Homo sapiens: one gene and its partners. The protein of the gene in region 1 purifies or fractionates together with the protein of each later gene. This does not show direct contact. Each region holds a gene or a part of one and is shown in the gene's direction. Other genes may lie near its edges. The genes, in order: SERINC2, MYOF, VKORC1L1, CNIH4, CYRIB, ATP6AP2 and RAB21.

Region 1 (3,342 bases):
AGGGTGGACAGGGTGGATAGGGTGGATAGGGTGGATAGGGTGGTTAGAGTGGAGAGAGTGGACAGGGTGGAGAGGGTGGATAGGGACCCACTGACTCACAGCAAGGGGTGATTTCTCAATTTGCTGGGGTGGCGGGGCTGGAATCCAGCTCTCCTTTTCACTTTTGTTTGGAAACGTGAGTTGGTTTTTCAAAAATTTTTATGTCTCAAACTATCAAATTCTGTTAAAAACATCAAGGCTCATCACAGAAAAGCATGACATACAATCATTACTGTTGTTCTTTTTTTAGTGTAAGCATGAAGGAAAGGGAGGCCATTGGTAAAACCACCTGACACTAATAAAATGGAAACTTAAAATCAATGGCAAATGAGCGTGATTAATTATTAACATTCTTAATGGATGTAGTACCTGGTATGGTACTTTGTAGTATTAGGTACTCGATACGTGTTTATGGAAATGGCAAAGGAACAATCCTAACAATAGTGACTGTTGATTGAATTTATATTCTGTGCCAAGCACTATGCTAGAGACCTTACATCATTATTCCGTCTAGTCCCCCCAGCAGCCCTCTAGAGGAGGTACGATTATCCCTTATTTTACAGACAAGGAATCAGAGGCTCAGAGAGGTTAAGTGTTTTGCTCAAGGTCACACAGAAAATGGGAGTGGGGGTAGGGGTAGAGTTGAGAGGCAAAGCAGTTTGTTAACTCCCAGGCCCAGTAACCGGGTCGCTGGCCTCTGAGGCTCTGGGACCATTTGTGTCCAGTGTTATGAGCAACGCCAGAGCTATCTATTTGCCCACCTTCCTCCCTCCCCTGCAGTCTGCGCTCCTCAGACCACCGGCAGGTGAACAGCCTGATGCAGACCGAGGAGTGCCCACCTATGCTAGACGCCACACAGCAGCAGCAGCAGGTGGCAGCCTGTGAGGGCCGGGCCTTTGACAACGAGCAGGACGGCGTCACCTACAGCTACTCCTTCTTCCACTTCTGCCTGGTGCTGGCCTCACTGCACGTCATGATGACGCTCACCAACTGGTACAAGTGCGTAGCTGGTGGGGCATGGACAGAGCCCGGAGGTGCAGGGTGCAGGTCCACACATCTCTCCTGCGGCCCTTCACTGGGTTTTCCTGATGTCTGCTTAAGGCTTGGGGGTGGCGGTGTGTATCAAGGACCCTCCATAGAGCCTGCCCCTTCCCTGCTACAGTTTCCCCAACAGTGCCTTCATCTGCTCAGCTCCCGCACCTTCACTAGGAGACTGAACCGGGGAAGGCACAGCAGCTGGGGCTGGACCTGTACAGGGCAGGCGGGGTTTACAAATCAGGGGTCATGGGGTCAGATTTGGGCTTCATGGTTGGAGGGTTAGGATCAGGGTGTGGAGTGCAGAACCAAAGTTACAAGGTCAAGGATAGAAGTCATGAGGTCTGGGGCTGGGATTGTGGTCATTTAGTGTCACAAATTTGGTCATTTGGTTAAAGTTAAAATTGAGAGTAGGAGGTCATAAAGCCAGGATTGAAGTGGCAAGGTCAAGGAGCTAAATGACAGTAATAAGGTCAGGGGCCACCCCTAAGTTACAGGATCAAAGGTCAGAATCAAGGGTAGCGGTCAGGACTAAGGTCAGGAGCTCCAGGGTCCCAAGTTCAGAGGCTAGGATTGAGGTCCCAGAATTAGGATCACAAGGTTGGAGACCAGGAGTCAGGTCATGATCTCATGGACTAACACTGGGCTCAAGATGGGAATCGAGGTCAGGAGCTATGTCCACGGTCACAAGGCCGGGTGTTAAAAATGTCAGAGATGGACTGGAGTTACAGGGTAAGAGCCAGAGTTGAAGTCAGGGGTCATAACTGGGACATAAGGCCAGGGGCCAAGATGGAAGTCACCAGACTGGGCACCAGGCTCATGGGGAAGATGGTGTGTTCCAGGCCCGGTGAGACCCGGAAGATGATCAGCACGTGGACCGCCGTGTGGGTGAAGATCTGTGCCAGCTGGGCAGGGCTGCTCCTCTACCTGTGGACCCTGGTAGCCCCACTCCTCCTGCGCAACCGCGACTTCAGCTGAGGCAGCCTCACAGCCTGCCATCTGGTGCCTCCTGCCACCTGGTGCCTCTCGGCTCAGTGACAGCCAACCTGCCCCCTCCCCACACCAATCAGCCAGGCTGAGCCCCCACCCCTGCCCCAGCTCCAGGACCTGCCCCTGAGCCGGGCCTTCTAGTCGTAGTGCCTTCAGGGTCCGAGGAGCATCAGGCTCCTGCAGAGCCCCATCCCCCCGCCACACCCACACGGTGGAGCTGCCTCTTCCTTCCCCTCCTCCCTGTTGCCCATACTCAGCATCTCGGATGAAAGGGCTCCCTTGTCCTCAGGCTCCACGGGAGCGGGGCTGCTGGAGAGAGCGGGGAACTCCCACCACAGTGGGGCATCCGGCACTGAAGCCCTGGTGTTCCTGGTCACGTCCCCCAGGGGACCCTGCCCACTTCCTGGACTTCGTGCCTTACTGAGTCTCTAAGACTTTTTCTAATAAACAAGCCAGTGCGTGTACCATGTTCTGTGCCCCTCACCCTCAGCACGGAGCCCCACTGCATGGGGGCCGGTGTGGGGTTTGGGAATAGAATGTTAGGGCTGAGGAGGCTGGGACATCAGGGCCAGACCAGGAGGAGCCTCAAAGGCAGACAGAATGGCCTGAGTTCTGTCTTCTGGGTCATGGAGCGCCTGAGGGGAGGGGGCCAATGAGGAAGGAGGGGCAGACCAGGGTTTTGGGAAAGTAGGGTGTGTCTGGTGGTCAGAAAAGGAGACCCTAGAGGCAGTGGGGCCAGCAGGAGGCTGCCCGACCATCCAACCATCCGAGGGAGGGCAGTGAAAGAGAGTCACGGTGGGGAGGAGGGGGCGATGACAGGGCCAGAAGGTGGTCTTCAGGTCCCCTCTCATCAGGGCCTGCCTCAAGGTCCTGCCCACCTCTGACCTGCCTGGAATTGTTACCACCGTTGGTACCTGCCCTGACCAGTCAAGCCCCAGGCCTCGGGGTGCTGTGGGGAGGAGCATGTGCTCTTGAGTCAGCCAGGCTGGCCCAGATCCCTCCGTACCACGGCAGCCGCGGGGCTGCTGTCCGGCTCCGGATGGGTCCTTCTCTTCTCTGGGCCCTGGTTCCTCATTCATTCAATGGGAACAATGCCACCCCTCCTAGGCTGTTGTGAGGATCAGAGGAAGCAGCCCATGCAATCTGCCTGGCACAGCGAGTTCTTGAGAAATAACATCAGCCCCCATCTCACAAGGGCAGAGAGATGTGAGGGAGACTGACAGGCTCCTGGCTAGGGCCCCAAGGCCTGGTCTTGTTACGATGATGGACTGCAGGCCA
Region 2 (4,359 bases), on another chromosome or scaffold:
GAGGAACAGCTGGGTCCAAGAACATTCTCCCCTGTCATTTAATTCAGCACTAATTATTAGGTGTAGAATTGCGTCTCCTAGAAATCCACATGTAAATAAGAACAAATGGCCTTTCACTGAACCTTATGTCTGCTCATACTTTATAGAAATACCAGCGAAGGCGGAAGTACAGCCTGTCTGCCGTGTTTCATTCAGCCACCATGTTGCAAGATGTTGGTGAGGCCATTCAGTTTGAAGTCAGCATTGGGAACTATGGCAACAAGTTTGACACCACCTGTAAGCCTTTGGCATCAACAACTCAGTACAGCCGTGCTGTATTTGATGGTAAGATTGGCACTAACAGTTCTCTCCACACGTTTACAATGGGTGCACCACGGGACCGGAAGCAAGCACTGTGTCTTCCCTCTGGCACTGTTCTACGCAGCCTATGGTTAGTGGAAAGGAAAAGGTTGAATGAGGAAGAGAGTGTGGTTGGGGTTCAGGCACCTTAAAGACTGGCCAGACCCAAGAAGTTGCAGGTCCCATTGCCAGAGGCTGAACCCCAATGCTACCCTCTCCCCACCCAGCTTTAACAATGGTTTTGCCATGTAAGACCCCAAGGTAGCCACTGTGCTAAGTTCTGAGCTCCGCAAAGCAGCTCCTACCCCTACGAAGCCCCAAATCTTTCTTAGGCTGAGTAGTGGAAAATGAATGGGACTCTGGATCAGCTACTGGGAAATCATGCTTCTGGTCTTCACTCTGTTACTCACCAGCTTGTGACCTTAACCGTGTCACTGAATTCTAACCCTCAGTTTCTTCGTCTTCTCTGGAGTTGACATGAGGATTAAATAGCTGTATTTGAACAAAGATGGGTGAGAAACAGTCCCTGATTTTAAGGAGCTTACATTCTAGTGTATAAAATAAATCATAATAGAAAGCAAAGTATGAGAACTTCCAATAAAACTGTCAACAAATGGTTTGAGAGTACAGAGAAGGGAGAGAGGAATACTGATCAAATTTCCCAACAGTATTGCCAGAGTTTTAACTTAATTTTTGTACAAGCAGTTTTAAAATGTAAGACATCCTAGGAAACATCAGCTAATAATTCTTAATCACAGTAAGGCTCTAGTACCAAACCCTATGTAGCCAGCTAAAGCTTTCCAAGAACAGAAAATTCTTTTCTTTTGCCCCAGTTCCAACAAAAACATTTATTTAGAATAACAGTTTTTAGGGACTAACATGTTCAGTCTAGCTTCCTATGTCATCTGTATTTTCTACTACCACGTTAAGAAACCATCTTTGATGTTCAGATGCATGGCCCTGAATCACTAAACGATCCTGAGATTGCTGTGCTCAGTTTACTAGGGTGTCTCAGAGAAAATTTCAGAACAGCCTGAATGAAAAAGAGCTTCCTAGTCTTCAGTTGCTTAATTGAGTCAAATTAAAGAACCAGACCACCTCAAGCTATTCCCCAAGCCTGTGGATTAATCAGCAGCTCAGTCTGCACATCTCTTTAATAAACATGCTGTCTATTTTAAGTGTTCAGTGTTCATTGACCCCCAATGTTTTATACCAGGCAACTACTATTATTACTTGCCTTGGGCCCACACCAAGCCAGTTGTTACCCTGACTTCATACTGGGAGGATATTAGTCATCGCCTGGATGCGGTGAACACTCTCCTAGCTATGGCAGAACGGCTGGTAAGTTTCTCTTTTTCTGCATTTCCTTTTCACCAAGCAGGGTGAATTAGGTATTAGGATGGAGGCCAGGCCACTATAACACAAGAAAGTGCTTAGTACAGTGATCAATAAGGTAAGAGCAATGTCTCTAGGAACAGTGGAGGTAGATGGTCCTAAGTTAGTATGGAGGTTCAGTGGTATTGGAGACCCAGGCTCTTACCCCCGGTTGCTCTGCCATCACTCAGGAGTTATCATTGTCTGCATGGTAGAGGCAGCTCACTACTACATCTGCCCTCCAGCCTGAGGGGAGGGCTGGTAAACAGTGGGGAGAAGATGACATAGGCCTTTCTCTTGAAGGGAAGGATGCAGAAGTCATACTCTTAATTTCTACTCACTTTCCACTGGCCAGAATCCAGTCATACAGCCACATGTGACTCCAACGAAGGTGGAAAATGTTAGTCTTATGCCTGGGCAGGCATATGCCCAGATAAAAATTTTCTTACTTTGGAAGAGGGGAGGATTAAAAAGGTAGGAGTGGGGTGGAACAGGAACTCATAGTTTCTGCCGTAATTTTTGTGTAGAGAGAATGGTTCATTCCAATAGCAATATGAAACTCTGAGAACTTTGCAGTGGAAATCTCCACTGCAGGAAGAGGTAGCTTTGAGGAACCAGTGTCTGACACATTCCACTCTTGCTGCAGACTAGAGGAACTTCTTTTGTTTGGAGGTTGGGGATTTCCTTGGGTGAAAACTGCATACATATGATATCTGTGATTATCTGTCTAGTTGACATTGGTCAACTAGATTGGTGAGGAGAAGGGGGATATGTCTGTGATATTTCTAATTAAGCAAAAATACTAAGTTACTTGGGCCAGGTGCAGTGGCTCACGCCAGTAATCCCAGCACTTTGGGATACCAAGGTGGGCAGATCATTTGAGATCAGGAGTTAGAGACCAGCCTGGCCAGCATGGTGAAACCCTGTCTCTACTAAAAATACAAAAGAAATTACCTGGGCATGGTGATGTGAGCCTATAATCCCAGCTACTAGGGTGGCTGAGACAGGAGAATCACTTGAACCCGGGAGACGGAGGTTGCAGTGAGCCAAGATGGCGCCATTGCACTCCAGCCTGGACAAATTGAGACTCTGTCTAAAAAGATAAATATATACATATATATATATATATATATATACACACACACACATACACACACACATATACACATATACTAAGTTACTCCTATCAGGTAGTGCTAAAATCCATCTGGCATTGGTGTTTTGATTTCAACATTATGTTAATATTAATTTTTTAAAGATCTAATCTCTACCAGGGCTGGACCAAAACATATGGGGTTTCAGGAGTATACTTGATCTAAAACTCGACGGCAAAATCTGAAATATCATTTTATGTTATAAAGGCAATCTGGGAGGATAACTATAGGTTTAAATTGACTTAATCATAACTGTCCTGAAAATAAAGTTGCAATTGATAGGCAATGTACATCTCAAAGGCATTTGTGGAGAATTAGTTGCACCTGTGTTCTAATTGTGTTTGAGATGCTCTTCAGCAATTTTCATCCTGGTTCTTCTTATCAGCTCTCTCCACTGACCAGGCTGCCTAATCTGGACAGGATGGTGGCTTTCCCTTTTCCCTGATTAGGACTTTTGACAGTCATGGTAGGCTCTTCCTCAACTTCTCTGTTGGCAGGTGCTCAATGGAATAGAACCATATGTTTTGAGCTTATCTTGTACTTTCTCTGCCCCAGTCCGTAAATCGCTATTTCTCCAAGCAGCTTTTTCCTTTGAGTGGGGAATAGCATTTTAGAAACAAAATCTGGGTATACAGTGCTCACTACTACTGAAATATCATTGCTTCTAGGCCTTCTCAGCAAACGAATTTGCACAGACACATGTATGTCTATTTATTTCTATATCTATCAATATATTAAAAGCTATGACTTCATAAAGATACTTCCAATTCCAGTCCAATACCACAAGGTTTATCCTAGTCCTCTGTATTTCTATGTCTCTAACTTTCTTCTCCAACAGTGAGAAATCTGGCCTTTGTTATCCTCAATATATTTACTCCTTGGTTCAATCCTAAAATCTGTAGATAAACCACTGTGAAAAATAAGCCTACTAATTAGAGTTCAATATGTTTATGGGTTTTTTTTTTCTGCCTTTTAACAAAGTGTACATAGTCAAAATACTGTGTTCCAAAAGTTACTTGGGTTAGTTTAGTGTAATTATGTTATTCATCTGAAATGTAATTAGATCTGTTTTATTTCTGGTTATATTCCACTTTAGGGTTCCCTCTCCTATCTTTGCTGGTTTCATTTTATTTGTTTTTTGAATATACAAAAATATTTACATGATTTCACAGGTTAAACTATATGAAAAGGTATAATGGCATAATGAACAATTATCAATTATTTCCTCTCTTTTCAAATTCTTCAGCAAACAAATATAGAAGCTCTAAAATCAGGGATACAAGGTAAAATTCCTGCAAACCAGCTGGCTGAATTGTGGCTGAAGCTGATAGATGAAGTTATAGAAGACACGAGGTACAGTGATCTTACGCCTATCTCAGAATTTTCATCCAGGCGCTCCTCCCTGAAATTCTAAGACTGTAAATCCTGTGGAATTGTTTCTAGTGTTTGTCTAAGAAGTGATTTTGAATTATTCAAACTTCGTAAAAAGTCC
Region 3 (4,359 bases), on another chromosome or scaffold:
TGTTAGCCAGGATGGTCTCGATCTCCTGACCTCGTGATCCGCCCTCCTCGGCCTCCCAAAGTGCTGGGATTACAGACGTGAGCCACCGCGCCTAGCCTGAAACAGACTTTAAATGAAAGCTGATTATTGGACACCTCAAGTTAGTTTTTTTTGAGTGGTGATTGCCATGTAGCAGTAGTACTCAAATATGTGACTCTTTTAGGAAAAGAAAGTTTGAGCCCAGAGGAAAGTTAACAGACAAAGATTCTGAAGAAAATCATCTTCCAGGATCCAGAGTCAGCACGTGGTTTTGGATTGCTCAAACTCACTTTATTCTCATTTCGCAAGCCCTGTGTCTTAATCCAAACACGGTAAGGTAGAGATTAATGAGAGAATCTTGAGAGGCAGGTGTTATCTGTGTGTAAAGTCCTCTATTATTTTGGGGAGGCATAATGATGGAAAGTTCCAGATTTTATATTTCTAAAGAAATATTTCACCGAAATTAGTAGGCTACAATAGAAATGCTGATTTTTCAATTCTACCATGTACAGCCAGTAAAAACAATAACACACCACTATCTCCTGTCACCATCATTTCATTTAACAAAAGGATATTTCCATTCAAACAATTTGAAAGAACAGAATCTCTCAGAATAAAATATTTTTAAATGGAATCATTTAGCTATATGGAAAAGTTTACTTTCAGACCAGCCTGGCCAACATGCTGAAACCCCGTCTCTACTAAAAATACAAAACAAGCTGGGCGTGGTAGCATGCACCTGTAATCCCAGCTACTCGGGAGGCTGAGGCAGGAGAATCACTTGAACCTGGGATGCAGAGGTTGCAGTAAGCCAAGATCGCGCCATTGCACTCCAGCCTGTGTGACAGAACGAGACTCTGTCTTTAAAAAAAAAAAAAAAAAGTTTACTTTCGTGTCCTTACTTTTTCCCATTTTCCCATAAATCGGTGAAAACTCTGCTGCAAACCTGCACCAGCCTGCCAGCTAACATTCAGTTAGCAGTCCCTGCCCCCTTGGTTTGGTACACTGAGCTCAAATCTAAGGGATCTGGGTGGGCTTCCACCTCTCCCAGTTCTTAGGCTTGTGGCCTTATCTTCATGGTGCCTCAGTTTCTTATGTTAAATAGGGCTTTTAACACCTACTTAGGGCCTGGTGCAGTGGCTCACACCTGTAATCCCAGCAGTTTGGGACGCTGACACCTGGCAGACCTCTTGAGCTCAGGAGTTTCAGACCAGCCTGGGCAACAGGGCAAAACCGTGTCTTTACAAAAAATACAAACGTTAACCGGGCATGGTGGCGCATGCCTGTATTTCCAGCTTCTTGGGAGGCTGAGGTGTGAGGATCACTTGAGCCTGAGAGGCTGAGGTCTGCAGTGAGCCATGATGGTGCCACTGCACTCCAGCCTGGGTGGTAGAGAGAGACCCTGTCTCAAAAAAAGAAAAACAAAAAAACCTACTTTGCCAGATTAGTGTTACGATGAAAAGTGATACATGTATGTTCCTGAAATAAAGCCTGTCCTCAGTTATAGCTGTTACCATTGATTGGAGATGTTCTTTTTTTTCCAGTGTTTGATAATAAATGCCTTTAAGTATAAGTTTCTTGTACATACTTGTTTATATGTTTAAACATTAATTGTTTTAATGTAGTTTATTGCTGACTTTATAGCATAGTATAAAGATGTGTTCATTTAAAACAATTTTGAAGTTGTGCAAGAGAAACTAATGCAGAATATTCTTTTTTTTTTTTTTGATGGAGTCTCGCTGCTCTGTCACCCGGACTGGAGTGCAGTGGCATGATCTCAGCTCACTGCAACCTCCACCTCCCGGGTTCAAGCGATTCTCCTACCTCAGCCTCCCAAGGAGCTGGGATTACAGGTGCCCACCACCATGCCCGGCTAATTTTTGTATTTTTAGTAGAGACAGGGTCTTGCCATGTTGGCCAGGCTGGTCTTAAACTCCTGACCTCAGGTGATCTGCCTGCCTCAGCCTCCGAAAGTGCTGAGATTATAGGCATCAGCCACCGTGTCCAGCTGTAATATGCAGAATATTCTATGTAGGTATTTTCTATATATAAGACCCCCTCTAAGAAGGGTTTCTATGTAAGAATAGTACAAATGATCTGGAAAGGTTAATAGGCTTGACAAATCTATGTTTCTTAAAACTGTAAAAATAGTCTGGTTGTCCTATGGTCTATGTATAGAACATATACCATAGGGGATTGGTTTCAGGACCCCTGTTTTTACTGAGATCCTGGCATACTCAAGTCCCCACTGTGGGCCCTGCAGAACCTGAATGTGAAAATTTGGGCCTCCATATATGCAGGTTTCGGTCTGCATTTGGTTGAAAAAGATCCACGTATAAGTGAGCACACACAGCTTAAACCCGTGTTGTTCAAGGGTCCACTGCATTTGAAAATCAAGTCCATAAAAAAGTTGCCTTATTTTACAAAATGTCGGATTACTACCTCTCCCATATCTTAAAAAAAAAGTACCATCTATTTACTACCCCATTGAGATAATAAAACTTTTAGAATTAGAATAGAACCTAGGGCTGGGCATAGTGGTTCACGCCTGTAATCCCAGCACTTTGGGAGGCTGAGGTGGGTGGATCACCTGAGTTCAGGAGTTTGAGACCAGCCTGGCCAATATGGTGAAACCCCTTGTCTACTAAAAATACAAAAAATTAGCCGGGCATGGTGGTGGGCACCTGTAATTCCAGCTACTCGGGAGGCTGAGGCAGGAGAATCACTTGAACCCGGGAGGTGGAGGTAGCAGTAAGCCGAGATTGTGCCACTGCCCTCCTGCCTGGGCAATAAGAGGGAAACTCTGTCTTACAAAAAAAAAAAAGAACCTAGAAGTATTTACTGCTCTTTGCTTTGTCTGAGACTCAGAGGTTAAGTGACTTGCCCAAGATAGCACAGGTAGTAGCAAATTGAGACTTGACACCTGGCTTCCAGAGTACTTATTTAAAGTCCCCTTTGCACCCCCATTTTAAAAATTAAATTCTTGGCTGGACGCAGTGGCTCACGCCTGTAATCTCAGCACTTTGGGAGGCCGAGGTGGGCGGATCACGAGGTCGGGAGATCAAGACCATCCTGGCTAACATGGTGAAACCCCGTCTCTACTAAAAATACAAAAAAAATTAGCCAGACATGGTGGCACACGCCTGTAGTCCCAGCTACTTGAGAGGGGCTGAGGCAGGAGAATCACTTGAACCCGGGAGGTGGAGGTTGTGGTGAGCTGAGGTCGTGCCACTGCACTCCAGACTGGGTGACAGAGTGAGACTCTGTCTCAAAAAAAAAGAAAAATTAAATTCTTGTCTAGGTAAGGCATTCGCTGCTTCGGATTTGAAAGATAACAAAGCATGTACAGTGAAAAGTCTCCTTCATATCCCTTCCACCAGACAGTTCTCCCGCTCAGTAGACCGCTGTGAAACTTTTCAGAGCCGTTTGACACATAGACAAACATCCACGTGACCATATGATTCCTCCCTTTTTTTAACATGGAAGTATCACGTATGCATCCTTATTGATAGCCTGCTTTTTGCTTGGCATTCGTTCCATTGCTCCCATACTTTAAATGCTTATGTTCATATTTAGTGAAATGTTAATAACTGCTAGTACGTAAAAGAGAATTTGTTCTAGTAGTTTTGACTAACCAAGATAAATTTCAGAAATAAAATTCTTAACATTATCATTGTTTCTTGGTATGGAAATTTCAGAAGCAGGTTGAACTGAAAAGAGTCCAAGAGGAATAGAGAAATATCACAAGGAAGTGAATCTGGACTGTAGTAGAGATAAATGTTAATACTTACAGATAATGCTTACTATGTGCTAGGCAGTGTTCTAAATGTTTTGCATACATTATTGAAGTCTCTCAAGAGTCCCATGAGGCAGGTAGCTTTTATCACCATTTTACACATGAGAAAACTGAGCAACGCAGACTAACACTTGATCCAGGTAGTACAGTGGCAGAGGCCTGATTCTAACCCAGGCAGTCTGGCTCAAGAGTCCAAGCTCTTTACCACTACTCTTTCGTCTTCCTTTCTTCCTTTCCCTCCCACCCTCCTTCTTCCTTTCCTTTCTTTTCTCTCTTTCTTTTCCTTCCTTCTTTTCTTTCTTTTTCCTTCCTTCCTTCCTTTTCTTTATTTTTCCTTCTTCCTTCCTCCTTCGTTCCTTGCTTCCTTCTTTCCTTTTCTTTTTCTTTCCTTTCCTTTTTTTTTCTTTCCTTTCTTTTCTTTCTTCTTTAACTTTTTGAGACATTGTCTCACTCTGTCTCCCCAGGCTGAGTGCAGTGGTGCAGTCATGGCTCACTGCAGCCTCAACCTCCCTGGGTCAAGTGATCCTCCAACCTCAGCTTCCTGA
Region 4 (4,359 bases), about 190 Mb from region 1:
TTACAGGTGTGAGCCACAGCGCCGGGCTGGAAGTACGTTTAAAAGCTGCAAATTAGGGCTGGGTACAGTGGCTCACGCCTGTAATCCCAGCACTTTGGGAGGCTGAGGTGGGTGGATCACTTGAGGTCAGGAGATCGAGACCATCCTGGCTAACACGGTGAAACCCCATCTCTACTAAAAATAAAAAAAAAAATTAGCCAGGCATGGTGGCGTGCACCTGTAGTCCCAGCTACTTGGGAGGCTGAGGTGGGAGAATGGCGTGAAGCCGGGAGGCGGAGCTTGAAGTGAGCTGAGGTCACGCCACTGCAACCAGCCTGGGCGACAGAGCGAGACTCCGTCTCAAGAAAAAAAAAAAAAAAGCTGCAAATTAGGTAACTAATCAAAATTTTTTATTTAATAAATTTAGGAAGTTTGTTCAAAATGAGCTCAATGGAAACCCTGAAGTATATAATTTTATAGTTGGGTTATTAGACATAGCATACTTTCTTGTGAAGACCGCTGGGATAATCTTGACAAGCCTGTAATTGTTATATTAGTGGGTTGCTGCTCTACTACATTTTTAGGTTTTATTTCATTTTTATTTATGTCTAGTTTTTTGGGACAGGACCATTCATTGGCTGTTTTTTAAGTATGATGTTGTAAAGTGCAGTTAGAATAAAAAGAACAGAAAAAAATAAAGTAGGGTTTGGAGGAAGATGGGATGCACATGAAAAGATAATGGCAGCAGTAGAGGTGAGGGAAGGAGTGGATATGGGGGAATGATTTTATAAAGGTCATGAAACTAGAATCTGAGTGAGGGAAAAGCTTTAAAATATCTGTGTCTCTTTTCTAGAGGGTGGGTACCCTGGGGTCGAATTTTTTGTTTTCTTTTTCATTTTTTAATATACTGAACATGGGTTCTGAATTTTTTTTTTTTTTTTAAGAGATGAAGTCTTGCTGTGTTGCTCAGGCTGGAATGCAATGGCTATTCACAGGTGTGATATAGTGCACTACAGCCTTGAACTCCTGGGCTGAAGCGATCTTCCCACCTCAGCCTCCTGGGCAGTTGGGACTGCAGGTGCACACCACCGCACCTGGCCTCTTTCAAGCTTAGTAGTACTCTCCCATGATCAGTTCCATAGACCAACGCCCTAAAGTGAGCTCTGAGCTGGGAACACAGATTACTTGCACTTCTGCTGCGGGCTAGTCCCAGACAGACTTTTAGCACAGCTAAGTCTACCTGTAGTTTCACTTAAGTGAAACACAACTTTGGGAGTGAGAATGGGGACTCGAATCTTTGAGAATGAGGATCTTAATGTTATACCAGACCATACTGTCAGTCATCTCTACTAGAAATGAAAACCTGCTAGAAGAGCCAGCTTTGGCATGGCTTCTTTGTAGATAGTGGTAAAAGGTTCTATGAAGTCAAGTCCAAAGATTCTTTTTTTAGGCCGGGCGTGGTGGCCCATGCCTATAATCCCAGCACTTTAAGAGGCTGAGGTGGGTGGATTACCTGAGGTCAGGAGTTCGAGACCAGCCCTGGCTAACGTGGAGAAACTGCATCTCTACTAAAAATACAAAAATTAGCTGGGCGTGGTGGCATGCGCTTGTAGTCCCAGCTACTTGGGAGGCTGAGGCAGGAGAATCACTTGAATCTGGGAGGCGGAGGTTGCAGTGAGCCGAGATTGCACCACTGCACTCCAGCCGGGAAACAGAGCGAGACCCAGCCTCAAAAAAACAAACAGAAACACTGGAGATTCTTTTTTAAATATAATTATAAAATAAAGACAAAGATCATGTATATTTATTGCCCTGGTAACTGCAGTGACAGGTTGGCTGTCTGCTGGTCACAAGTTTACCTTCTATTTAAAAAGGTTTAAAAAATCAACAGATAGATTATTTGCTATTTTCAGACCACTATACTTTATGCTGTTGGAGATGAAGTACAGTAGTCCACAGGACAAAGAGGCAAAATACCTAGGAGTGGAATCACTGAGTCATATAGTAACTCTATATTTAACCTTTTGAGGGACTGCCTGAGTGTTTTCAGAAGCAGCTGCACTTTTTTTTTTTTCGAGATAGAGTCTCACTCTGTTGCCTAGGTTGGAGTGCAGTGGCGTGATGTTTGCTTACTACAGCCTCGACCTCCTGGGCTCAAGCGATCCTCCCACCTCAGCCACCCAACGTGTTGGGATTACAGGTGTGAGCCAGTGTGCCCAGCCACAGCTGCACTATTTGACATTCCCATCAACTGTGTATTGGGGGTTCCATTTTCTCTACATCCTTGCCAACACTTTTTACTGTGTGTGTCTTTTTTTTTTTTTTGATATCAAAAAAATACCAAAAACTGTCTTTGATATTTTTTTCCTGCCCTAGTAGTATACAGCTGTAGAGTTCCCCTGCCTGTTATAAGCATTAATATATGTGCCTCAGCGACCATCCCACTCATGGTCTTTGGGGAATCATACCACAGCTCTCAGCTACTTTTATCCAAATTGTGCTGATCTTTCTTGGCAATAAGTAATTTAGGTGTGATGCTCATTCTCCAGTATGCTGAATGGTCTATTATGGTAAAGTTGTATCAGTCTTCTAGTTATAACGCACTGGAAGTAAGAATTAATATGAAAGATTGGCTGTCAGACACTGGAAGCCTTATATAGTCCTGTTTTAAATTATTCCTGTGTGTTTTAGAGATGAGCGCAGTGGCTCACTTCTGTAATCCCAGCACTTTGGGAGGCCGAGGTGGGAGGATCACCTGAGGTCAGGAGTTCAGGACCATCTTGGCCAACACGGGGAGACCCCATCTCTACTAAAAATACAAAAATTAGCTGGGCATGGTGGTGTTGGGCACCTGTAATCCCAGCTACTCCGCAGCCTGAGGCAGGAGAATTGCTTGAATCCAGGAGGAGGAGGTTGCGCTGAGCCGAGATCTTGCCACTACACTCCAGCCTGGGCAACAGAGCGAGATTACGTCTAAAAATAATAATAATAATAAACTAAAAAAGTATAACTGGATCGTTTGTAACACAAAGGATAAATGCTTGAGGTAATGGATACCCCGTTTACCCTGATGTGATTTTTTTTTTTTTTTTTTGAGACGGAGGTTTGCTCTTGTTGCCCAGGCTGGAGTGTGATACCGCAATCTTGGCTCATTGCAACCTCCGTCTCCCGGGTCCAAGCGATTCTCCTGCCTCAGCCTCCTGAGTAGGTGGGATTACAGGCATGCGCCACCACGCCTGGCTAATTTTGTATTTTTAGTAGCAATGGGATTTCTCCATGTTGGTCAGGTTGGTCTTGAACTCAACCTCAGGCAATCCTCCCGCCTCGGCCTCCTGGAGTGCTGGGATTACAGGTGTGAGCCACTGTGCCCAGCCTTACCCTGATGGGATTAGTACACATTGCATGCCTGTATCAAAATCTCTCATATAACCCATAAATATATATACCTACTGTGTACCCACAAAAATTAAAAATAAAACAAAAATACAAAAAGGAAAAAAAAGACAGCTAAGTAAGTGGTGGTAGGAAGAAAGACTGGACAAGGGTTTGATGGACTGGCTATGAAAGATGAGGAAGAGAGAAGTCCCAGTTGGGTAAGAGGAAGTTTTTAAGGACCACCAAGAAAATGGTGACACTCTTATTAGATAACCTAGAAATTAGACAAGGATGAGATGTTATCTGGATATTCAAATGAAAATACCCTCTATTCAGCTATAGTCGGGCTACTGGGGTTTTAAGGGAGAATTTCAGATTTGTGGAACTCAGAGAGTCCTTTGCATTTCAAAGAAGTGATAATTGAGAAGCTGTGTGACAACTAAGGTTGTACTAGAAGAAGCTTAGACGTGAGAGCAGGAAGAATTCATGGACAGTGCTAGGTTAGGACATATATGTTACACAGATGACACAGTCTGGATGTTGAAGCCCAGACACTTAAATTCATTGATCCTCTCAAAGTAACCTAACTTCCTTAATTTCCCTGTTTCCATAATGAAGTTTCTAAGAACTTAATAAAATTGGTTTGGGTTTGAAGCCTTCTTTAACCTTTGTCTAATGGAAAAGGGCTGTAGATGTGACTGGTATGGTAGTTTTCTACAGATGAGTAAAAGGGTTTCAGTGCATAAAATATCCTTTTCTGGAATGTTACTGTATTTATTTTACAGGGCAGAAGATTAACAGTATTATAACTTTCAAAAGGAAACTAAGTGGCAGCCCATGACATTATCATACTACTCTGTACATATGTGGTATGAATTTAAGGCTGCTATGATTGGCTCACTTTTTTTTTTTTTTTTTTTGAGATGGAGTTCTGCTCTGTCACCCAGGCTGGGGCTCAATGGCACGATCTTGGTTCACTGCAACCTCTGCCTTCCGGGTTCAGGT
Region 5 (4,359 bases), on another chromosome or scaffold:
CCCTTTCAGGGGGTTGATTTGGAAAGGAAAACAGACATAAGATTTGAATGTATCAGTGTGGCTACTTGTGAACATACTGCATTCAACTAATGGATAGAAATTTGAATAAAATATTTCAGAAGAGGTTTTTCTTGTGTGTGTGTGTTTTTAAAAAGAATTTTGTAATGCACTTCTTCCATGCATATCTTATCTACTCTTCAGGGAATACAGAAGCAGATTTACAAATGAAGAGACAGTGTCATTCTGCTTGAGGGTAATGGTGGGTGTCATAATACTCTATGACCACGTACATCCAGTGGGAGCATTTGCTAAAACTTCCAAAATTGATGTAAGTTATTGTTTTATATAAATAATTTCAAACGAGTTTCTCCATGGAAACCATAGGATTTTATTTTATGATAAGAGCCAGCAAACCGGACTCTCACAAAACTCAGATTTATAGTTTGTGAAATGGTGGACTTTCATCTCCTCTGTCCCTGTGCTGTTTTTCTTGTGGCCTGTATTCAGGTGGAATAGAATGATCAAAGGATGACTATATTGTCTAGTGAGTACCTCCTGGAAGGCTTCTACTACGTATTTGGCAATATAAATAGATAATTAGATATAAGGAATTTTGAGTCATATCCTTTAATTCCTTTGGCCAAAGGCCATTTCAAATAAAATGTTTATTTCAGAATGCATATAAAAAGTCAGTAGTGCTGCTGGGCGTGCTGGCTCATGCCTGTAGCCCAAGCACTTTGGCAGGCTGAAGCAGGAGGATCACTTGAGCCCAGGAGTAGAAGACCAGCCTGGGCAGCATAGTGAGACCCCCATTTCTACAAAAAAAAAAAAAAAATTAGCCAGGTGTGGTGGCACACATCGGTAGTCACAGCTACGTTGAGAGGCTGAAGTGGGAGGATCCCTTGAGCCCAGGAGTTCCAGCCTGCAGTGAGCCACGATCACACCACTGCATTCAGTCTGGGTGAGAGAGAGACCCTGTCTTGAAATTAAAAAGACAGCCAGTAGGATGCTCCAGTGGAAAAAGATGAAGACTTTATGTATTTTCCCTCCCCTACCTAGTCATAATAATTTGTGACTATAGTTGGCTCTCGACTTTTCTTCTCTCTGTAAAAGTTTGTATTAGAAATAGTTTTCTAATTTCTCTACTTCGTAGTTTCTTTCCCCAACCTCTCACATCTAGTTCATTAGTGTTTGGTGAGAATTGTCTTCCCGTTTCCCTTTCATAGCTAGTTTAGGCTCTTAGCATTTCGGATCTCGATTACTGATTACTAGCCAAGCTTGTTGCCTTCATGTACACCTGTCATATGTAAAGAGAAATGAGTTAATATTTACTGTATGGTTGCCATGTCCCAGGAATTTTACGTTTGTTCTCCCTTGTGACTCTGAAAATACTCTTTTAGGTGTCATCTCCCTTTACTGACAGGGCAACTAAAGTTTAGCAGATCAAGTAATAGAATTGCTAGTAGGCCGGGTGCAGTGGTTTATGCCTGTAATCCCAGCACTTTGGCAGGCCGAGGCAGGCGGATCACCTAAGGTTAGGAGTTCAAGACCAGCCTGGCCAACATGGTGAAACCTCATCTCTACTGAAAAAAAATACAAAAATTAGCTGGGTGTGGTGGCACACATCTGTAGTCCCAGCTACTCGGGAGGCTGAGGTGGGAGAATCGCTTAAATCCAGGAGGCAGAGGTTGCAGTGAACCAAGATTGCGCCACTACACTCCAGCCTGGGTGACAGAGCGAGACTCCATCTCAAAAATAAAAAGAGTTGCTAGAAAAGGTAGAACCCACATTTCTCTGGCTTCCAAAGCCTGTGTTCTTTCTGCTGTATTATGCTTTTTTATAACAACCAGGCTAATATATCTTAAATACCATCGTCATCAAGTGGTTACCTTTTAAAATAACCTGTGAGTCCCCTGCTGCCAGGCATAACACTTCGTATAACTCATCCTGGCTTTCAGCCTCTCATAACTCCAGGTGCAGTGCTGAAAAATTCCTATCTGTCCTCTGTGTGATACTTTACTCTGTGAGGTTTCTCTACCTGAAAGTTCTTCTTTTCCTTAGTAACATACTCATTCTGTCCTTTATTTTTTATTTTATTTTATTTTTTGTGACGGAGTCTCGCTCTGTCACCCAGGCTGGAGTGCAGTAGTGCGATCTCGGCTCACTGCAAGCTCTGCCTCCTGGGTTCACGCCATTCTCCTGCCTCAGCCTCCCGAGTAGCTGGGACTACAGGCGCCCACCACCACGCCTGGCTAATTTTTTTGTATTTTTAGTAGAGACGGGGTTTTACCGTGTTAGGCAGGATGGTCTCGAACTCCTGACCTTGTGATCCGCCCGCCTCAGCCTCCCAAAGTGTTGGAATTACAGGCCTGAGCCACCCTGCCCAGCCCATTCTGTCCTTTAAATCGCCACTCAGCACCTTTTCCAGAAGTCTTCCCTTAGCAAACCGTTTGTTTTTCATTGCATGTGTGGTATATTAGTTTGACTGATTTTGTTCTCAAAAAGATTTTGTTTTCACTAAGTGAGAATAATAACTCTTAGGTTGGGTTTTTTTCTGTTCTAAGAATAATTAATTTGACATAGTATGTAATCTCTTGAGTTCCATAGTTATGGTCTTGATTTATTTTACTATTTTGAAAAGGAATGTTACATGAAAAAAATGGCTGTTTTACCTTTTCTGTTTTCTTTTTCTTTAGATGAAAGGTTGTATCAAAGTTCTTAAGGACCAACCTCCTAATAGTGTGGAAGGTCTTCTAAATGCTCTCAGGTGTGTATATGTACGTGTACGTATGTACAGAAAAAATCTGTAAGGAAAATGGTCGATGTTTATGTAAAGAAAATGCATTAAGTGTGAATAGGATATAAAAATAAGTGTTCAAGCTAGAAATATGAAGATCTTATTTTGTTTATTGATAATCTTGCTTCCAAACACTGGTTACGGTATTTTATGATGAGGAATGTGTGGGACACATGACAATAGCAGCTTCATTTTCTGGTTGAAGATTTTGGCTTTTACTTGTTGCTTCTCTTCAAACAGAGATTGCTTGTTTTTGTAATAAAAGTATTATATACCAGTTATAAATAAAATTCAGAAAACATAAGAAAATGTAAATAAAAAGAAATAATGTAATCTCACCATTTTGAGATAAGCCACTATTAGCATATAGCCTTCCAGAGTTTTTTCTTTACATATATAGATAATAGCTCTATGTAGTAGTTATCTTTTTACAAAATAATATCTTACAAAGTGGCTTGTAACTAGCTCTTTCCTCTTAATAGAATGTAATTACATTTGTGCTCAGACTTGTGTTCTGTTATTTTTATGTATTTCCTACAATAAAAATTAAGTAGTCATTATTTAATGTCTTTTCTTAGATTAGTTTTACTTAATTTAGTTGCTCAAACTTCTACAAATGCTAGAACATTATTTCGTTATTTAGAGTTGGAATCTCGCTCTGTCACCCAGGCTAGAGTACAGTGGCACAATCTTGGCTTATTGGAACCTCGGCCTCCCAGGTTCAAGTGCTTCTCCTGCCTCAGCCTCCCGAGTAGCTGGGATCACAGGCATGTGCCTGTATTTTGTATTTTTAGTAAAGACAGCGTTTCACCATGTTGGCCAGGCTGGTCTCAAACTCCTGACCTCAAGTGATCCACCCACCTTGGCCTCCCAGAGTGCTGAGATTACAGCATGAGCCACTGTGCCCAGCTGCTAGAACATTTTTAAATGAAAATCTCGATACTTTATAACATTTGACTACAGAGATTTAATTGGTAGTATTCACATGACATAAAAGATGATGTCCCATTACTTGATTTTTTGAGGGTTTAAACACAAAAATTACATGAACACAGAAATATTTATATAATGATATTTACCACATAAAATGTAGGCTGTATCATTTCAGCTAAGCGGAACTGTCAAATGATTTTATTAAGATTATGAAAAAATGTTTAAAAATAGTTTTTAAAAGATTATGAAAAGTGTTGCATAAGCGGTAGCTGCCTGAATAAAGGTGATCTATTCTAAATGAACATCAGCAAGATTAAGGAACATAATTTAAAATCCTTATAATGTCAAACTATTTTAACCATAAGCCTAGTTTTTAGAATTCTGTATTCTTGGGGTTTTTACAACGCATACTTCAGTGGTTTTGCCAATATTTAATGATATCATGAGTCTTTCCTCCTTGGTTTCTTTCTGAATACTCCCTGTGTCTCAGTCAACCTGATTTTTCTCCCAAGACTTTGTCTTTCTGATTGGTCAGGCTCTTTGAAGCCAGCAAGTGGCAGGAAATCTTTTTTAAAAACTTGAAGGTAATTGAGATCTAGGAGGTTTTAGGATTCTTTCTTGAGCTTGAA
Region 6 (4,359 bases), on another chromosome or scaffold:
CAGGGTCCCGCTCTATCACCCAAGCTAGAGTGCAGTGGCCTGATCTCGGCTTACTGCAACCTCCACCTCCCAGGTTCAAGAGATTCTCCCACCTCAGCCTCCCCGGTAGCTGGGACCACAGGCGTACAACACCATGCCCAGATCATTTTTATATTTTTTGTAGAGACAGGATTTTGCCATGTTGCTCAGGCTGGTCTTGAACTCCTGGACACAAGGAATCTACCTGCTTCAGCCTCCCAAAGTGCTGAGATGACAGGCGTGAACACCACACCTGACCATCTAGTTCTTTACAACCTTAAACTTGACTACTGATGGCTATTAAAATAACTGAGAAATAATTATTAGTAAACTAATGATAGTTACTTTTAGTAGGAATTGTTTTATTTATAAAGATCTTAGTCTAAAGAGGATGTTTTAATGACCATCTTGCTATGTCTCTGTGAAAGATAAAAGTGATGCTGTATATGAGGGCAAAAAATGATGTGGGGGAAGAAAATTTCCATGGCTACATGAAGAAAATATTTTGTGATCTGAAATTTGAAAGGTACCTATGTTTTGTTTACTTGCTTGCTTTTTTCCACAAAAGGTGTCAGATGACTTACTATTGGACTTTATTTCAAATCTGTAAAATTTTAAGAAAATGAAGAGGGTAGAAATCAGCATTCTTGATTAGGGGATTGCAACGACTGCCACAAATAAAATGTTTACTTTCCCTGTGAATTTTCCTTGTCAGTGTCATCTCAGAACCCCTTAACTCTGCTTATTAGATGTTATTGGGGAGGTGGGTTCCTGAGTTGATAATTAAGCACCGCTTTGTGCTTTTCAATGTTTAGGACCTTTCTTGGCCAGGACTCGCAGTGGGTAACCTGTTTCATCGTCCTCGGGCTACCGTCATGGTGATGGTGAAGGGAGTGAACAAACTGGCTCTACCCCCAGGCAGTGTCATTTCGTACCCTTTGGAGAATGTGAGTATTTATTATAAAAAATTAAAGGGATGCATTTTACATTTTCCCTTGTCAGCTGTCATTATGAATTGCATTCTAAACATACTTCTCTTATCTGTTTTTGATGCACAGTTTCTTTTGAAATTCTTTGACAAACACAATTTCTTTTTAAGAAAATTACATGATGATTGTAATTAACTGAGGCTTGGCTGTTCTCTGTGGATGAGAGTACTGTTTAAGATAAGAGATAGAGAAATTGCCCCACTCAGAATAGCCAGAGGCTTGAAAAAGAGAGCCACTAAAGGAGAAACCAGTTGGGGTTGTATCCTGCTACTGTTTTTTTGGCCATTGTCTTGTCATCTTCCCTGCAGGATTTTACCTCTTTTCGTGTGTAAGGACACTGGAGGCTGCTTGCTGGCTCACTTACTCCTTCACTGGCTATTCAGGCAATGTGGGTGACTGTGCTGATCTAAGAGGCCCTCCTTCCATTATAAGCATATAGAAGTGCTTGAAAGAATGTCACAAAAAACATTTTTACTAGCATAACTAAATTTGAATGCAAGAGGGGGTGATATACACAGGTGTTACATATGGATGGAAAACTCAGAAGCCATAGTGGTGAGCAGAAGCTGACGCTGAAACTGTGTTTCCTGCAGAAAGCCAGGGACTAGAAATGCTGTCAACTTGTTCTTGAAAAGCAGACTAGTAAAACTAGTAAAGCTGGCTTGCTGCCCTTGGCTGTTGGACCCAAAGAGTCCCCTGAGATAAATTAGAATTAGAATTATAGGCTTATGCTGTGCAGAGTGGTTCTTTGCAAATTCACATGACCTGCCCCATAGGGACATCTCCATAGCCAAGGGCTCCTTTGGTCAAATACGGAAGATGAGTGGAATTTACAAAGCACCTGAAGGAAAAAAAATGCCATGAGAAACAGGTGCAACAAACAGAATTCATCTCCTTAGAACTACGGAGAATAGGCCAATTTCCAAGAGATCTAAAAATACATACATTAAAATTGTGAAAAAAAGGGCCAGGCATGGTGGCTCACGCCTGTAATCCCAGCTTTGGGAGGCCAAGATGGGAGGATTGCTTGAGGCCAGGAGTTTGAGACCAGCTTGGTCAACATAGCAAGACCCTATCTCTAGGGGGAAAAAAAAAGAAAGAAAGAGAAAAAATTTGTGAAAAAAAGGAAGGAACAGAAACTATGAGGGAGTTATAAGACATTTTTGATACATGGTGCTTTAGCTGATACTTCAAAATATTTCATAATTTATATTGTGATTCTTTAACCCATGAGTTATGTAGAAGTATTTTTTCCAAATGCATGGGTTTTAAAAAAGTAATTTCTAATTTTTAAATTTCTAAGTTCACTGCATTGTAATACTGTGGTCTATGTGATGCTGAAGTTTTGGGATTTTTTTTTTTTTCAGACTTTCCTGTGGTCGAGTATAGATTATTTCCAAGTACACATGGCATACTTAGAAAAAATTACTGTGCAGTAGTCCACAAGGCAAATCTCAACAAACAATAAAGAATCAGTGTCATATAAACTAACTTCTCTGACCACAATGCAGTTAAATCTGAAAATAATAATAAAATGATATCTTAAAAGGGTATTTGGAGCCCGGCACCATGGCTCACGCCTGTAATCCCAACACTTTGAGAGGCCAAGGCGGGTGAATCACTTGAGGCGAGGAGTCCGAGACCAGCCTGGCCAACATGGCTAAACCCTGTCTCTACTGAAAATACAAAAATTAGCCAGGCGTGGTGGCACGCATCTGTAGTCCCAGCTACTCAGTGGCTGAGGCACGAGAATTACTTGAAACTGGGAGGTGGAGGTTGCAGTGAGCTGGGATTGCGCCACTGCACTCCAGCCTGGGTGACAGAGCGAGACTCCATCTGGGAAAAAAAAAAAGGTATTTGGATCAACATTTCTCCTTTCCCCATCCACCCGTCTCCCCCAGCGTCTTCTAACCATCATTCTACTCTACTTCTATGAGTTCAACTTACAAGTGAGGTCATGTAGTATTTGTCCTTCTATGCCTGGCTTACTTCACTTAACATAATGTCCTCCAGGTTTATCCATGTTGCAAATGACAGTTTCCCGCGCTTTAAAGGCTGTATAGTATTCCATTATGTTTATATACCACATTTTCTTTCTGCTTTTTTCTTTTTTTTTTGAGACAGAATCTTGCTCTGTCGCCCAGGTTGGAGTGCAGTGGCGCAATGTCATCTCACTGCAACTTCTGCCTCCTGGGTTCAAGGGATTCTGGTGTCTCAGCCTCCTGAGTAGCTGGGATTACAGGTGCATGCCACCACGCCCAGCTAATTTTTTGTATTTTTAGTAGAGATGAGGTTTCATCATGTTGGCCAGGCTGGTCTCGAACTCCTGAGCTCAGGTGATCCACCCACCTCAGCCTCCCAGTGGATCTCAGTGCTGGGATTACAGGTGTGAGCCACTGCACCCAGCTGCACATTATCTTTATCCATTCGTTTGATTATGGACACCGAGGTTGCTTCCATCCATATCTTAGAAATTGTAAATAGTGCTGCAGTGAACATGGGAGTGCAGATATCTCTTCAGCATACTGACTTCAATTGCTTTGGATATATATACCCAGAAGTGGGCTTGCTGGATCATGCTTTAGTGATCTATTGCACAAAATGGTGACTATATTAAATAATAATGCATTGTGTATTTCAAAATTGCTAAAGGAGTAGATTTTAGATACTTTTACCACAAAAAAAATATAAGTATGTGAGGTGATGGATTTGTTCATTAGCCTGATTTAATCAGTCTACTTTGTAAACTTATAACAAAACATAACATTGTACCCCATAAATATATACAGTTACTATTTGTCAGTTAAAAATAAAATAAAAAGTATTTGGAAATAGTAACAAACAGAAGATAACAACTCCTCAGATTTAAAGCATATGGAACACCCAGTAGGCAAAAGCCAGATCCACACCTACATACGGTGAAATTGAAGAGTCATCAAGGAAATGGAAAATCTTAAAAGCTGTGAGGGAGAAAAGACACTGTCATTACAAAGGAATGAGAGTAGAAGGAAAGCAAGGAAAATGTAGTGATTGTGTAGTATGAGCTAGGCTGAGTATTATTTGCATTGTCATAATAATGAAATGATGCTGATCAAGTGAAAATTTTGATATAACTATTGGGTAAGAGTGGGGAGATAGAAACAGAAGCAGAGCGCATGGATGGCTCAGCGCATGGATGGGGCAGTGGTTGGTGATGTGAGAGAGCTAAAGCCTCATTTTCTATAATGGATAGTAAATAGACAAGACCTAAAATTGAAAAATCAGGAGATGTAATTTAAGTGTCTTATTTAGAGATGTTAAAAGCAAAAAAAGTCAACAAGAAAAGATAGTTGGAATAGATGCACTCCTAAAT
Region 7 (4,359 bases), on another chromosome or scaffold:
TGGTGATTTCTGAGATTTTGGTGCACCTGAGCAGTGTACACCATATTCAATATGTAGTCTTTTATCCCATACCCTCCTCCAAACCTTCCTCCTTGAGTACCCAAATTCCATTATATCATTTCTTACACCTTTGCATCCTCATAGCTTAGCTCTCACTTATAAGTGAGAACGTACAATATTTGGTTTTCCATTCTTGAGCTACTTCACTTAGAATAATGGCCTCCAGCTCCATCCAAGTTGCTGTAAAAGACATTATTTCATTCCTTTTTATGGCTGAGTAGTATTCTATGGCGTATATATACCGCATATTCTTTATTCACTTGTTGGTTGATGGACACTCAGGTTGGCTCCATATCTTTGCAGTTGTGAATTGTGCTGCAGTAAACATGTGTGCATGTGTCTTTTTCATATGACAACTTCTTTTCCTTTGGGTAAATACTCAGTAGTGGGATTGCTGGATCAAATGATAGATCTATAATGCTTTTAGTTCTGTAAGTAATCTCCATACTGTTTTCTTTAGTGGTTGTTCTAGTTTACGTTCCCACCAGCAGTGTAAAAGTGTTCCCGTTTCATCACATCCACACCAACATCTATTGTTATTTTGACTAATTATGGTCATTCTTGTAGGAGTAAGGGGTATGTCATTGTGATTTTAATTTGCATTTCCCTGATAATTAGTCATGTTGAGCATTTCTTCATACGTTTGTTGGCTGTTTGTATATCTTCTTTTGAGAATTGTCTTTTCATGTCCTTTGCCCACTTTTTGATGGGGTTGTTTTTTTCTTGCTGATATGTTTGAGTTCCTTGTAGATTCTGGATATTAGTCTTTTGTTGGATGCTTAGTTTACGAACATTTTCTTCCACTCTGGGTTGTCTGTTTACTCTGCTGAGTATTTATTTTGCTGTGCAGAAGCGTTTCAGTTTAATTAGGTACCATTTATTCATTTTTGTTTTTGTTGCATTTGCTTTTGGGGTGTTAGTCATGAATTCTTTCTCTAAGCCAATGTCTAGAAGAGTTTTTCCAATGTTATCCCCTAGAATTTTTATGGTTTCAGTTCTTAGATTTAAGTCTTTGATCCATCTTGAGTTGATTTTTGTATAAGGTGAGAGATGAGGATCCAATTTCATTCTTCTACATGTGGCTTGCCAGTTTTCCTAGCACCTTTTGTTAAATAGGCTATCTTTTCCCAAATTTCTGTTTTTATATGCTTTGTCGAAGATCAGGTAAGTGTAAGTATTTGGCTTTATTTCTGCGTTCTCTATTGTTCCATTGGTCTACGTGCCTATTTTTATACCTGTTTGTTGCTATCTTGATGTTTCAGCTTTCTTCTTAAATATATTCATAATTTTATTTTTTAAAAAAGTTTTCTAAAGTTTTTTAAAAAGAGTTCTCCCTTGAAGAAAATGTCTATAAAATATTAAAAACTTAGGATTTATATCAAATGAGATGATTTACGAAACAGAATCTTTCCATAGAGCAGGGCTTAAGTTTTTCATTATGAAGGAAAAAAATATTTACTAGGGATCCTTTGATAATATGCTTTACTAGTGCATCATATATATGAGTTAAAATAATTTGATTAAGAAGGAAACTTAGGAGCATATCTCCTACTAAATTGAGTTATACCTGCATTGATTTACCTGGGCATATTGTAGATGTGCTTATCTATAATAACAGTATTTGATTGTCAATTATGGGCAGGGTACTATGACTTCCACCCACTTCTTCCACAAGAGTGGAAGTGTTAGAGAGCTCAGATCTCAGTCTGAGAAGTATCGTAGCATAGTAGTTATAATTAATATCTGGAGCCAAACTGCCTGGGATTTCAAGTGGCACTGTGTCACTTACTGTGTGACCTTGGGCAAGATATTTACCCTCCTTATGCCTCATTTTCCACATCTGTAATACATGGGTAACAATTATCTCTGACTCACAGGGTGTTATTGGCACCTGAGAATTAAGTGAATTAATATTTGAGAAGCTCTTAGAACACTGCCCATTTCATTGTAAGTGCTGTAGAAACGTTAAATAAAAATATGTAGTCTAGTTAACAGAATACTTATACCCATGAAAAGATAATTTATAGTATAAGACAGTATAAGCTGCAGTAAATGCAGAGTTGATTCCCTAAAATTCTTCAGGCTAGAAAAATTTGTGTGCATTGCGTGCATGAGTATAAGAGAACATGAAATTTCAAGGAAAAAGAGCCATATTTGGATAGGTGGAATTCAGATAGAGAACAGAGAATAGGCTCAAATTAGAGTGGAATTTTATGGACAGAAGAATTGAAGAGGATGCAAAAAAGCCATATAAGTTGGAGAATAAGTAAAGAAATATTGGAAGCTGTCCTAAGAAGATAGATGTGGACACGTTGTGGAAGTCTTTGGATATAAAGATAAGGCTTTGAGACTTTTAATTGTAAATGTGGGCTCCCCAACTTTTATAAAGAAGCAGCTTATGAATGATTTTGTGAAAAGTGCATAGCACAGTACTTGGCACAAAATAAACATTTAATAAATGTTAGCTAGTATTAGCAGCAGTAGTAGAAATGACTGTGTAGTGTTTTTACTGCATGGATGGCTATTTTTGTGAATTTTTAACTACTTACCTATTAATGAACACAGATAATTTCATTGTTTTTGTTTTTCTATATAATCAGTGTTGTCATGTGTACCCTTTCCGTACAAGTGTTTTTGTGTATCCATAGTTCCTTAATGGAGACTTAATACCGTCCTTTAAATTTGCCGTGGGAGAGTGGTGGGAAATTTCAGAGGGGATGGTAGAAAAGAAATGAGGCAGCTTTACCAACTCTGATGCACTCCCTTCTTCTGAGAAATCTCCACAACACTCATGACCAAAAGGTTATGATATTAGCTGTCAGCAGGGATGTTCAAGCATACTTATTAAAAATGATAACCTGTTAGGGAACCCTTCGATGAGTTGTAAGTTGTTGTTGTGGGGTTTTTTTTGTTTGTTTTGTTTTTGTTTTTGTTTTAACCAGGGAAGCTTTGGGAAGATAATATGGCATGCAGAGCGGGGTGTAAGGTGAACCAGAGGTATTTATGTTACGATATAATAAGAGACTGGTGGTCATAGACCCCAGAGGAAATGTGAAGACAAGGCTTGGTAGATTTTGGAGGCATATAGACTGACAAGGGCTTAAGAAGATATTTCCAAGTTTCTAAACTTCAATGAGAAGGCGAATGTGATCAAAATACTAAAGTCAGAATGAAAATCCAATTTTGGGGAGAAGATCGGTTCAGTCTTTCTTACATGTGTTTGAAAAAGAGGCACTTAAATTGACCTATCCATTAAATATTCGGATAGGATTCAGATTTTGTTTTTTTTCCATGTGGCATTGATATTGAAACCATGAAAATGATTGAGTTCAAATAAATTACACAGCTAGTATGTGGCAAAGCTGAGATTCAAATCCACAGGTTCTGCTCCAAAGTTCATATTCTTAGCTCCTATGCTAGCATGAATGGGAGAAGACATTTATTGTCATAACATGTATTTGGTCTTCTCATTTTTCAGGTTACTTTGCTGTTTTGGCATTTAATTTTTCTTCTTTTCTGTATAATTTTTATTTTATTTACAAAATATCTTGAGGATAGCTTGGGCCTTGAAGGCAGACATACATGGGTTTGAACCCAGCTCTGCCATTTATATTTATCTGTAGACTCCTTGGTTAATCACTACATCCAGTGGCCTTTTCTTAGTTCTAATTTTCTGTGGTGTGCCCATAGCAAAAAGACCTTCCTGAAATTGAGGTAAAAGAAATCTCAATTGTTTCTTTCCTTCAGTAATTCACCATCCTGACCTTTTATCTGTTTCACCTTCTTTGCACTTTCTTCTATATAAATAACACCTAAATGTGACTATCTCTATACAGGTCTGAACTCAGCTCTCTATTCCTTTTTTTTAAACACGTCAGCTGACTCTGGATTCTGGATATATTTTGTCTTCAGTAACTCTTGATACTCTTCTTTCTTTCCTATCTTCATGGTCTTAGTTCAGATCTCCTTTTTTATATTTTTCTCCAATTTTGTAAGTGTTCTTTCTACCTATCTTTTCTAGTCCAACCTCCCTTCCTATCCCAGGGTCATTCTCTTAAAATATAGATCTGTTTCCCCATTGCTTGAAACCATTCAGTGATTCTCCCTTGTCAGTAGTCCTGTTTCTTCAAACAGTTGTTCTTTAGGATGAATTTGGTATTTTTCCAGGAAAAAAAGGTTCAGTGCTATACAGAAGAAAATCAGGGAAAAAAAGTTCAAATGAGTTTGGGAAATGCTTGTATAAATACAGTCAGCTAGCCTTCCTTTTGGCAGCATCCTAATGTGTTAATGTGCATTGTT

What was found.
Region 2: the proteins of SERINC2 (region 1) and MYOF purify together in Homo sapiens (affinity purification with mass spectrometry; one large-scale study listed by BioGRID and IntAct). This does not show direct contact.
Region 3: the proteins of SERINC2 (region 1) and VKORC1L1 purify together in Homo sapiens (affinity purification with mass spectrometry; one large-scale study listed by BioGRID and IntAct). This does not show direct contact.
Region 4: the proteins of SERINC2 (region 1) and CNIH4 purify together in Homo sapiens (affinity purification with mass spectrometry; one large-scale study listed by BioGRID and IntAct). This does not show direct contact.
Region 5: the proteins of SERINC2 (region 1) and CYRIB purify together in Homo sapiens (affinity purification with mass spectrometry; one large-scale study listed by BioGRID and IntAct). This does not show direct contact.
Region 6: the proteins of SERINC2 (region 1) and ATP6AP2 purify together in Homo sapiens (affinity purification with mass spectrometry; one large-scale study listed by BioGRID and IntAct). This does not show direct contact.
Region 7: the proteins of SERINC2 (region 1) and RAB21 purify together in Homo sapiens (affinity purification with mass spectrometry; one large-scale study listed by BioGRID and IntAct). This does not show direct contact.

What each region holds. Positions count from the first base shown.
Region 1 is NC_000001.11:31,432,148-31,435,489, forward strand, and holds the end of SERINC2 (serine incorporator 2), read left to right. Parts: intron 1-819; coding exon 820-1,038; intron 1,039-1,916; coding exon 1,917-2,052; 3' UTR 2,053-2,531; downstream 2,532-3,342. UniProt on the Homo sapiens protein: Non-ATP-dependent, non-specific lipid transporter for phosphatidylserine, phosphatidylcholine, and phosphatidylethanolamine. Functions as a scramblase that flips lipids in both directions across the membrane.
Region 2 is NC_000010.11:93,377,184-93,381,542, reverse strand, and holds part of MYOF (myoferlin), read left to right. Parts: intron 1-146; coding exon 147-324; intron 325-1,555; coding exon 1,556-1,680; intron 1,681-4,113; coding exon 4,114-4,220; intron 4,221-4,359. UniProt on the Homo sapiens protein: Calcium/phospholipid-binding protein that plays a role in the plasmalemma repair mechanism of endothelial cells that permits rapid resealing of membranes disrupted by mechanical stress. Involved in endocytic recycling.
Region 3 is NC_000007.14:65,875,620-65,879,978, forward strand, and holds part of VKORC1L1 (vitamin K epoxide reductase complex subunit 1-like protein 1), read left to right. Parts: intron 1-202; coding exon of another isoform or gene 203-350; intron 351-4,359. UniProt on the Homo sapiens protein: Involved in vitamin K metabolism. Can reduce inactive vitamin K 2,3-epoxide to active vitamin K, and may contribute to vitamin K-mediated protection against oxidative stress.
Region 4 is NC_000001.11:224,366,621-224,370,979, forward strand, and holds part of CNIH4 (protein cornichon homolog 4), read left to right. Parts: intron 1-4,359. UniProt on the Homo sapiens protein: Involved in G protein-coupled receptors (GPCRs) trafficking from the endoplasmic reticulum to the cell surface; it promotes the exit of GPCRs from the early secretory pathway, likely through interaction with the COPII machinery.
Region 5 is NC_000008.11:129,845,212-129,849,570, reverse strand, and holds part of CYRIB (CYFIP-related Rac1 interactor B), read left to right. Parts: intron 1-201; coding exon 202-328; intron 329-2,696; coding exon 2,697-2,767; intron 2,768-4,359. UniProt on the Homo sapiens protein: Negatively regulates RAC1 signaling and RAC1-driven cytoskeletal remodeling. Regulates chemotaxis, cell migration and epithelial polarization by controlling the polarity, plasticity, duration and extent of protrusions.
Region 6 is NC_000023.11:40,590,401-40,594,759, forward strand, and holds part of ATP6AP2 (renin receptor precursor), read left to right. Parts: intron 1-833; coding exon 834-965; intron 966-4,359. UniProt on the Homo sapiens protein: Multifunctional protein which functions as a renin, prorenin cellular receptor and is involved in the assembly of the lysosomal proton-transporting V-type ATPase (V-ATPase) and the acidification of the endo-lysosomal system.
Region 7 is NC_000012.12:71,764,530-71,768,888, forward strand, and holds part of RAB21 (ras-related protein Rab-21), read left to right. Parts: intron 1-4,359. UniProt on the Homo sapiens protein: The small GTPases Rab are key regulators of intracellular membrane trafficking, from the formation of transport vesicles to their fusion with membranes.